Linked DNA regions of Homo sapiens. The protein of the gene in region 1 interacts with the protein of each later gene in a pairwise test. Each region holds a gene or a part of one and is shown on either strand. Other genes may lie near its edges.

What was found.
Region 2: the proteins of SCGB3A2 (region 1) and MARCO come close enough for resonance energy transfer, tested with the Homo sapiens proteins (one study listed by BioGRID).

The regions. Positions count from the first base shown.
Region 1 is NC_000005.10:147,876,925-147,880,847, reverse strand, and holds the start of SCGB3A2 (secretoglobin family 3A member 2 precursor), read right to left. Parts: upstream 2,138-3,923; 5' UTR 2,045-2,137; coding exon 1,990-2,044; intron 1-1,989.
Region 2 is NC_000002.12:118,940,073-118,943,995, reverse strand, and holds the start of MARCO (macrophage receptor MARCO), read right to left. Parts: upstream 1,803-3,923; 5' UTR 1,696-1,802; coding exon 1,599-1,695; intron 1-1,598. UniProt on the Homo sapiens protein: Pattern recognition receptor (PRR) which binds Gram-positive and Gram-negative bacteria. Also plays a role in binding of unopsonized particles by alveolar macrophages. Binds to the secretoglobin SCGB3A2.

The DNA.
Region 1 (3,923 bases):
CAACGCTACAAACATAATTGAGCACCAACTCTATCTAGTCTGTGCAGATACATAGACAAATAAGACAAGGATGCCCATTCAGAGACTTCACACAGTCCAGTTGGTGATAGAAGATCTGTGTATGCCACAGTGTAGCATGTGCTATGCTAACATTATGGACAAAGCTCCATGGAAACACAAGAAAGGGATGACTAATTCTAACATGAAAGAGTGCTGCAGGAATTTTCCAGAAGTGCTGTTAGAGCTATGTCTTGAGGCAAATGTCAGGATCATAAGGTAAAGAAGAGGAGAAGCATTTTAGAAACATGACCAATAAAGGCACGGAACCATTAGGATAAAAGTGCATACACAGGATGGTGAGCCTTCTGCCCAGAAGGCTGGAGTGCAGATTTCCAATAGGCTATGACCAAAGGATGGAAGATAAAGGGAGTGAGGCTGCAAAAGTTGAGTGAGGTCAGATTTTTTAAAGTGTTGGATGTCACACAAAGGAGTTTGGATTTTTTTTTCCTGAGGGCAGTGGGGCGCTATCAAGGCTTTTACATAGGAAAATTACGTTTTATATCTTTGGCTTTAGGAAGATAACTTTCCCGTAGAAGATGAATGGTGGGAAAAAGTAGAGATTGAGGAAAATATGTACGATGTATTTTTTACAAAAACATGTGCAGATATATAAATGCACACATGCATGTGAGCACACACGTAAGAACACACATCCTCCTACTGGCTAAGACCTGCCATAGTTTATTTTCCTTTGGAAACCTATTATTTCCCCATTCAAATTATTAAAATGGAGCCTGTATATATTTTTTTAAATTTTCAATCACCTATTGTCCCTCCAAAATTCTCACCCAGAGGGGGCGGTATTTATTTTCCCCACCTCCTTTCTGCTGCCACTTTGCCCATAGATACCTGTCCCTGGACATTAGAGAACAGTGAAATATCCAAAACTGGTGAAGTTACAAATTCCTTCAGAAATTCAATAAACATCAAAAGCCAAAGTTGCCATTGTAGGTGTGGGCGGCAATCAATTTTTCATTATTAATCTCCATACTTCTTATTTCAGACATTTTGGTAAATATCTTCTCTGTATGTGTTTACAGCTTCCTGGGAGAAGATCTTCAAAGCCTTCTGTTCTCTCAATGAGCAGTGGCTATCATGAAATCTCTTTTTCCCATGTGCCCACACTGTCTTCCTGATAGTTACAATGATTCCTTCCAAAAAAATAAATCAGTTCCCATTCTCCTCCAAGAAGCCAGCTTCTATACCCTTACCTGAAAATTAAACTAATCACCCACCAATACACTAAAAGAGTTCTATCTGGATATCTCACAGTACGTTTACAGTAGTCTAGAATTATAGTAACTTAGGCAGAAGCCCTATCTATCCTACCAGAGTAGCACCTTAAGAACAATATTTATGACTGCTTCATGTCTAAATCTTCCAATGCCTATCCAGTGCCCAACAAATTGTAGCCATTCAATAAATATCCATTGAGTGGATAAACAGATGAATGTAGCTATCTCAGGAGAACCAAGCTAGCAAATTGGATAACTGGAGATGATAGCAAGAATGACTCCATATAGTTCAAAAGCACAAAAGAAATTATAAAGTCAAATTTTAACTCAAAATTGAGGAAAATAAGAAAAACGAATGGTGACCAATATCCAGCAGTGAAATGTGCTTTGTTGACCCTCCGTGGAAGTTGGCTAACTTCCTATGTAGGATGTATTAGAATACTTATATTGGGCTAGAGCTTAGATGGTGGGGATCTGAAATACTTTCCAACATCACCATTTTCTGTGATTCCAAAACTTCTTCCAACCCTGCAAATATGTGCAATTATTATGTGTCAGTTAAAAGTAAAATAAAAAAAAATACAATTCCTACCACCATATTCCACTGTCAGTGAGGCAAGGCTTACTAGTTGTGCTCTTATTAACAGAAAAGTAAAGAAATGTCACATATTCCAGATGTATTCCAGTTACTTACCAGAGTAACTACAAAGGCTGATGGTCACCAGCAGGAAGATAGTTACCAGCTTCATGACAGTTATCTGGGATATTTTTCAGGAGTTTAAAAATCAGAAAAATCTAGCAAAATCCACCAAGCCAGTGGTTCCACTTGCCATACAAAGTGTGATGGCTGCTTTTGCACACACATATTTATATGCCCATTGAGGACCTGAATTCTAGTCCCTACCACTTGACTCACCCCACCAAAGAAAGGGATAAATGTTATGTTTTCTCACCAAACAATTTGGAGGGTTTTCCACTTCCCCGTGTGTTCCCATGAGAAACAAAGCTCTACAGTACAGCATTCTCAAGTACCTCTTGCATAAACCCTTGCACAGAAATAAAAGCAGAAGGCAAAGAGCCCAACGAATCCTTCTCCTGGAAGAACATTGAAAAGAAGTGAAGAATTTATATTTGGATTAGAAGGAGTGTTTTCCTCTGGTTTTCTACATTTTTCCCCAGTTTTCTAATCATTTAAAGTTTGGAGAATCACATTAGCTGATGAACTACCCAGTTGTGAAAGCAATCTGGAGGCCACTCTGGTATAATACAGAGTCAGCTTCATGACATTTAGTGCCACATTTCTCTGGAATTCACCTGCCCCCAGCCCACTCACACATCTACTATGGTAAGATTTTCACACCTCTGTTACCTTTTCCAGTGTCAGTTACTTTGAGTATGTTCAGAGCATGTCTTCTCTGAGCCTTTGGATAGAATAATAGGCTTAAGATCTAAAATCAGAGTGTCTTTTGAAAAACCTGGGATTCAATTTTCACTGTTTGTGTAATCTTGGATTTGACATTTTTAATCTAGGATATTGGTCCTCTCATCTAAAATGGGAACATAAATAACACAACCAACCATAAGGTGTGTAGCTTGGGGAAAAAATTGTTTTTGCAAGATTCTTTGGCAATCAAATCCGATAAAATCATTCAAAAATACGTAATTGTAAGGTACTGGCTACAGGAGTAGTAATTTGTTTCCAAGGCTGTCTTTCTGGATCCAGGGTTCAGCCACAGGACCTCAGGACAACTTCATTTGTGAGCAGAAGTCCTGGAGTTCTTTGGGGCATCGAGTGGGCCCGACATGCAAGGAAGAGGGTAAGAAAGAACCATGAAGGGGTGAAATAGAAAGCGGAGTCCATATGGGCACAGGACCAGCTCAGGGCTCCCCGGCCACGTGGTACTGCTGGCTCCAGCCATTCCCACCACCAAAGTGGAACCCAGAAAATTTTGAGAAAACACACCTTAAGATGTAAGGCCAGAGGTTGGGGCTTTATTTGTCCTCATCTGAGGGTGTGGTATTGTAATGAAGATCTAATAAAATTATGCAGACAGAGCATTCTGCTATGCCAAACCAAAATTAATATCTAATTTATGTCACATTTTACTAATTTTTATGTTACCATGTTGTAACTGTCATTTCTTTATCTTTCTGCTACTTTATAAACTACTTTATAAACTACATGAAAGACACCATGAATGCCTGCCATGCACCTCAATCCTGCCACTTCTCCTTCTTTCTCTACCAGTACTGCTTCCATTTCTCCCACATATTCCCACTGATGCCAGTGATATTAATATACCAAGCCCCTCAAAGAGCCAAGGTTGGTGGTAAGATTGATGCCGTTGCCGGAGGAACAGGGTCCAGCTGCTTGCTCTCGTGGTCCAATGATGAGATACAGGTGAACTGGGAAAGAAGCGAGTTTATTTTTGTAACCAGCCACAGGGAGAAGGTCGGAGTAATTTACCAGACCAACTAAAAGTTATGAGTTTTTCCTTTAGTATATATAAATGAATTTCAAGCTCTATGCCTATATGCAGGAGTATTTCTACTTAGCCTAAATCTAATCTTTAACTAGTGGTCTGTGGGCTGGAAAGTTTCTTAATTTTACATGGGTCCTGGTATGGT
Region 2 (3,923 bases), on another chromosome or scaffold:
CCTTCCATCCACTGCCCCTCATCATCTCTTGCTGCCAAGTTCCTCTCTGTCCTCAGCTTCTCTCTCCAGCCATCCCTATGTAGGACAAAGAGCAACCTCACATGCACATTAGTGCCTTTCAGCCCCACATCGGCCCCTTCCTGCTTCCCCACTGACCTCAGGATGAAGTCAAATTTTTTGGTTCCAGCCTCAGTCCCCACTGGTCTTTCCGTCCCAATTTTGGCCAAACAGTATGGAAGTATTTATATTTCTCTGAATATTTCTTGTGAATACAATACAAACATGTGGCGCCCACCCCGCCCCAGGCACTAACTTCTTTCTCTAACGGACTCCCTTTATCCTTTAAACTTTGGAAGAGGTGTCAGCTCTGCCCTCCAGGGCTCTACACCTGGTTAGATCTGTCCATCATGTCCTGTGGAAGTCTCAGTCACAACATGGAAATTGTCAGTTCATGGGCAGCTTACCCTGTCCCCTGTCCCCTCGTGCCAGAAGCCAGAGGCCAGAGGCTATGTTTATTCAAGCCTGTTTCCTCAGTGCTGAGTGCAGTGCCCTGCTGGAAATAGGTGCTGAGTATGCTTGATCAGCTGACTTTGCTTGAACATCTTCAGTCTCTTAAACAGTCATGTATCCAGAATGTTGCATTCTGAGAAGTTCTAAATAGCCAATGATTATTATAGCCATTAGCACTCACACCTTTCTCTGTTATTACACTGTAAATTCCTAGAGGCAGAGCCCCAGACGCTTCATCTTTGTGCGCTGAAAATTCCAGGCAGGGACCTGGGCAGACAGGTGTGGGATGAGAAGGACACTCTGGCCAGGAGATAAAGCCACCAATTTTCCTGCATAGACAACTTCCAGCAAAGCCTGGGAGTGGAAATGACTGATCAACTTGGAAGATGATCCCAAGAGAACGTTCTAGACTAGGAAATCAGAGCTCATTTGTGGAATGCAAGCCCACCCATGACTTCAAATGCTACAAATTCTAGAAGATTTTAAAAATGCATCACCTGTTGAATGCTGAGTGAGAAAATAAAGACAACAGAGTTGACTGAATATTACAGACCTGAGTTTAACCTAAGACAAACTAATTATGAAGCTATGAACATATTTCAGTCAACATGAAATACAGAATATGTTTCCTGACCAGCACATCAGTTATAACAGAAATCCCCTTAAAGAATTTTAAAGAAGCTGTGTTTTGAAAACTGTCATGCTTGGCTTCAGTTTTGTGGTCCCCTTTCAGTGCCCCTGTTTTGCGTTTTCATTGTATCACCCAACCTGTGTGTCAGAATAAGACATTCATTAAAAAAAGGGGACATTTAATAAGCATTGGCATTTTTTCAAGGGAAAATATTTAAATATGATTAAAACAATAGTGAAGCTAAGAAAAACCTGACTATATGCTAAAAATACAGCATCTATTATTAGCATTCCAGAAATTCCAAATTGAAGCACTCCAGACAGTATTAGTGATGATTACGTGCAAAATGCAGCAATAAGCCAAACCTAGACTTTCTATTGACTTGTCTATTTTCGTATCTCGCTAGCAGAAAGACTACATTTCTGGTCATTTCCATTATTGGGGAATCGTACTTTACCATTGATTTCGAAAGGCTCCATTGCAATTTGGTGAAAAGCAGCTTGTTGGGTCTCACTCAAGAGCTCGTCCTCCTTGAGAATTTTCTTATTTCTCATTGCCAAGCTTTATAGATGGCCAAAGTCCTGGAGCCAGCAGAAATGCTCCCCTCAAGAGGAACCACTTGGAGAAAGATCCTTCCCATCGAACCACTGCAGCTGGTTGTAAACCTCGCAGCACTTCCCTTTGGCTCTGATTTCAGAATTTGCAGGATGTTTCCTGACATGATCAGGATTGGACATTTCTCAAACACGGGCTATTCACATGTGGATCTCCCACACAGTGCTGCTGCTTGTTAAGGGGGATCGAGGAGGCTTTGGGACACAAGTTACGGGCCTCTGAATGCACCCGTCACTCCCAGGTCCCTGAGACCCAAAAGCTGGATGGCTCCAGAGAGGGCCAACCAAGCCCTGCCATGGGCCCAGACTCAGCTCTCTGTCCCAGGACCTCTCCAGCCCACAGTGAAATCTCCCTTCTCTGACCTGCCTCAACCTTTAGAGTTCATCCTTGCTGCTCAAAGTGTGGTCCATGGACCAGCAGTATTAGTATCACCTGAGAACTTGTTAGAAATGCAAGTTCACTTGTTCTAACAATGAGTCTCTGGTCCCACCCCATCAGATCAAATCCAAATCTACAGTTTAACTAGATCCCCAGGTGATTTATATACACATTACAGTTTGAGAAGCCTTGCTCTGAACCACACATTTTAGCACTTAGTATTTCTTCTTGTAGTTTTCCCATGTTCTCTCTCTGTGTGTGTACACATGTGTGCACATGTGTACATGTGTTACAGGTGTCCTTGTCCAGGCCCCAGTGAGATCTGAGCTCCTTAAGGAAAGTAGCTTCTCCCCTCTCTCCCTCCCGTCAGGCATCTCTACCAGGGATGCTGTATAGCATGGTGGTTAAGACACAGACACTAAGAGCTAGAATGCCTGGCTTCAAATTCCACCTCTTCCACATAGGGGCTGTCTGGCAGTAGGCAAATCACTTGAGCTTTGAGCATCTCACTCTTCTGTTTGTATAAATAAGGAAGATATGAATTTCGTGAGCCTTAAATGAATTAAATCATATAAGGTGGCTAGGATGGAAGTATTAGGTAATAAACACTATGGTCATGTTGTTGTTATTATCATTAGAGACATTGTGAGCCTGCTGGGCACCGAGGAGATGAAGAAATGGCCTTTTTTCATGAAAGATATTCACAGTCTACCATGCAAGATGGTTGCGGCTACAACTACATTCCAGAAAATTGCTGTGAAGTGCGGCAAAGGTTGATGTCCCTGAAAAGACAGAAGTGCCGGGAGGCAGGGGAGACAGGGCAGAAATATGACAAATAGCTTTATCATCTGAATCAAGAGATATCAGATACCAGAGCTGGGCTTAAAAGGATAATGGGGGATTGATCCAGATCAAGATGAGGCAAAGGCCCTCCAGGGAGGAAGGAGGGCAGGTGCAGCCTCTCAGAGGTGGGACAGCCTGGAGCAGGGGAGCCGTAGACTTTTGGCCTATTTGAAATGTAAGAGGTGAGGAAGACAGGTGGCAGGAAGTGAAGCTGTGCCAGGCGAAGTCACTTTCTTTGGCCCGTGGTATGTCAGAAAGTGAAAGGGGATGAAACTCAGGAAAGTGAGCTCCTAGCAGTGCCCTGAAAAGCAGAGGTCCCCCGTGGCGCCCACAATTTCAACATTCAGGAAGTCACTGGTTCCGCCAGAGGACAAGCAGCAGAAGCCAGGACAGAAAAATTTAAAGAGGAAAATTGGAAATGAGGAAGTGATGGCTCCAGCTAGAGTCTGGGGGGTAGACAGGACCAGATAATTGAGGACACAGGGGATTTGCCCACTGGAGGGCAGTCCCCTAGGCAAAGGAACCCGCTCACTTAGCCTGGCAGAGCTCCCTGCTCTCCCTCTGCCTCTGCCTGGTCAGCTCATCTTTGATTCTCATGGGTGTGGGGAGGGGACTTATTAGAAAATGTCATGGGCTAATTATTGAGGATCCCTGTTCTTAAAGGAAGCACTTAGTGGATGTCAAGTGTAGTCACTTCACCTCTGGCTAGAGACCAGAGAGACTTGGGTCCCAAATTCAACTCTTTCATTAACTTTCTGTGTGACCTTGGTTGACTTACTTCTCTGAACTTCCACACAGAGTAATGGCTTGTGCAAGCATTAATTCCTATCCAGGATTTACTGTTAATGCCAGACACTGTGCTAAACATTTGCATACATTGCTCAACACTCATAACTTGCAACTTGCCTTAAATTGTGTGGTTATAAAGAGCTACACCAGAATTTGA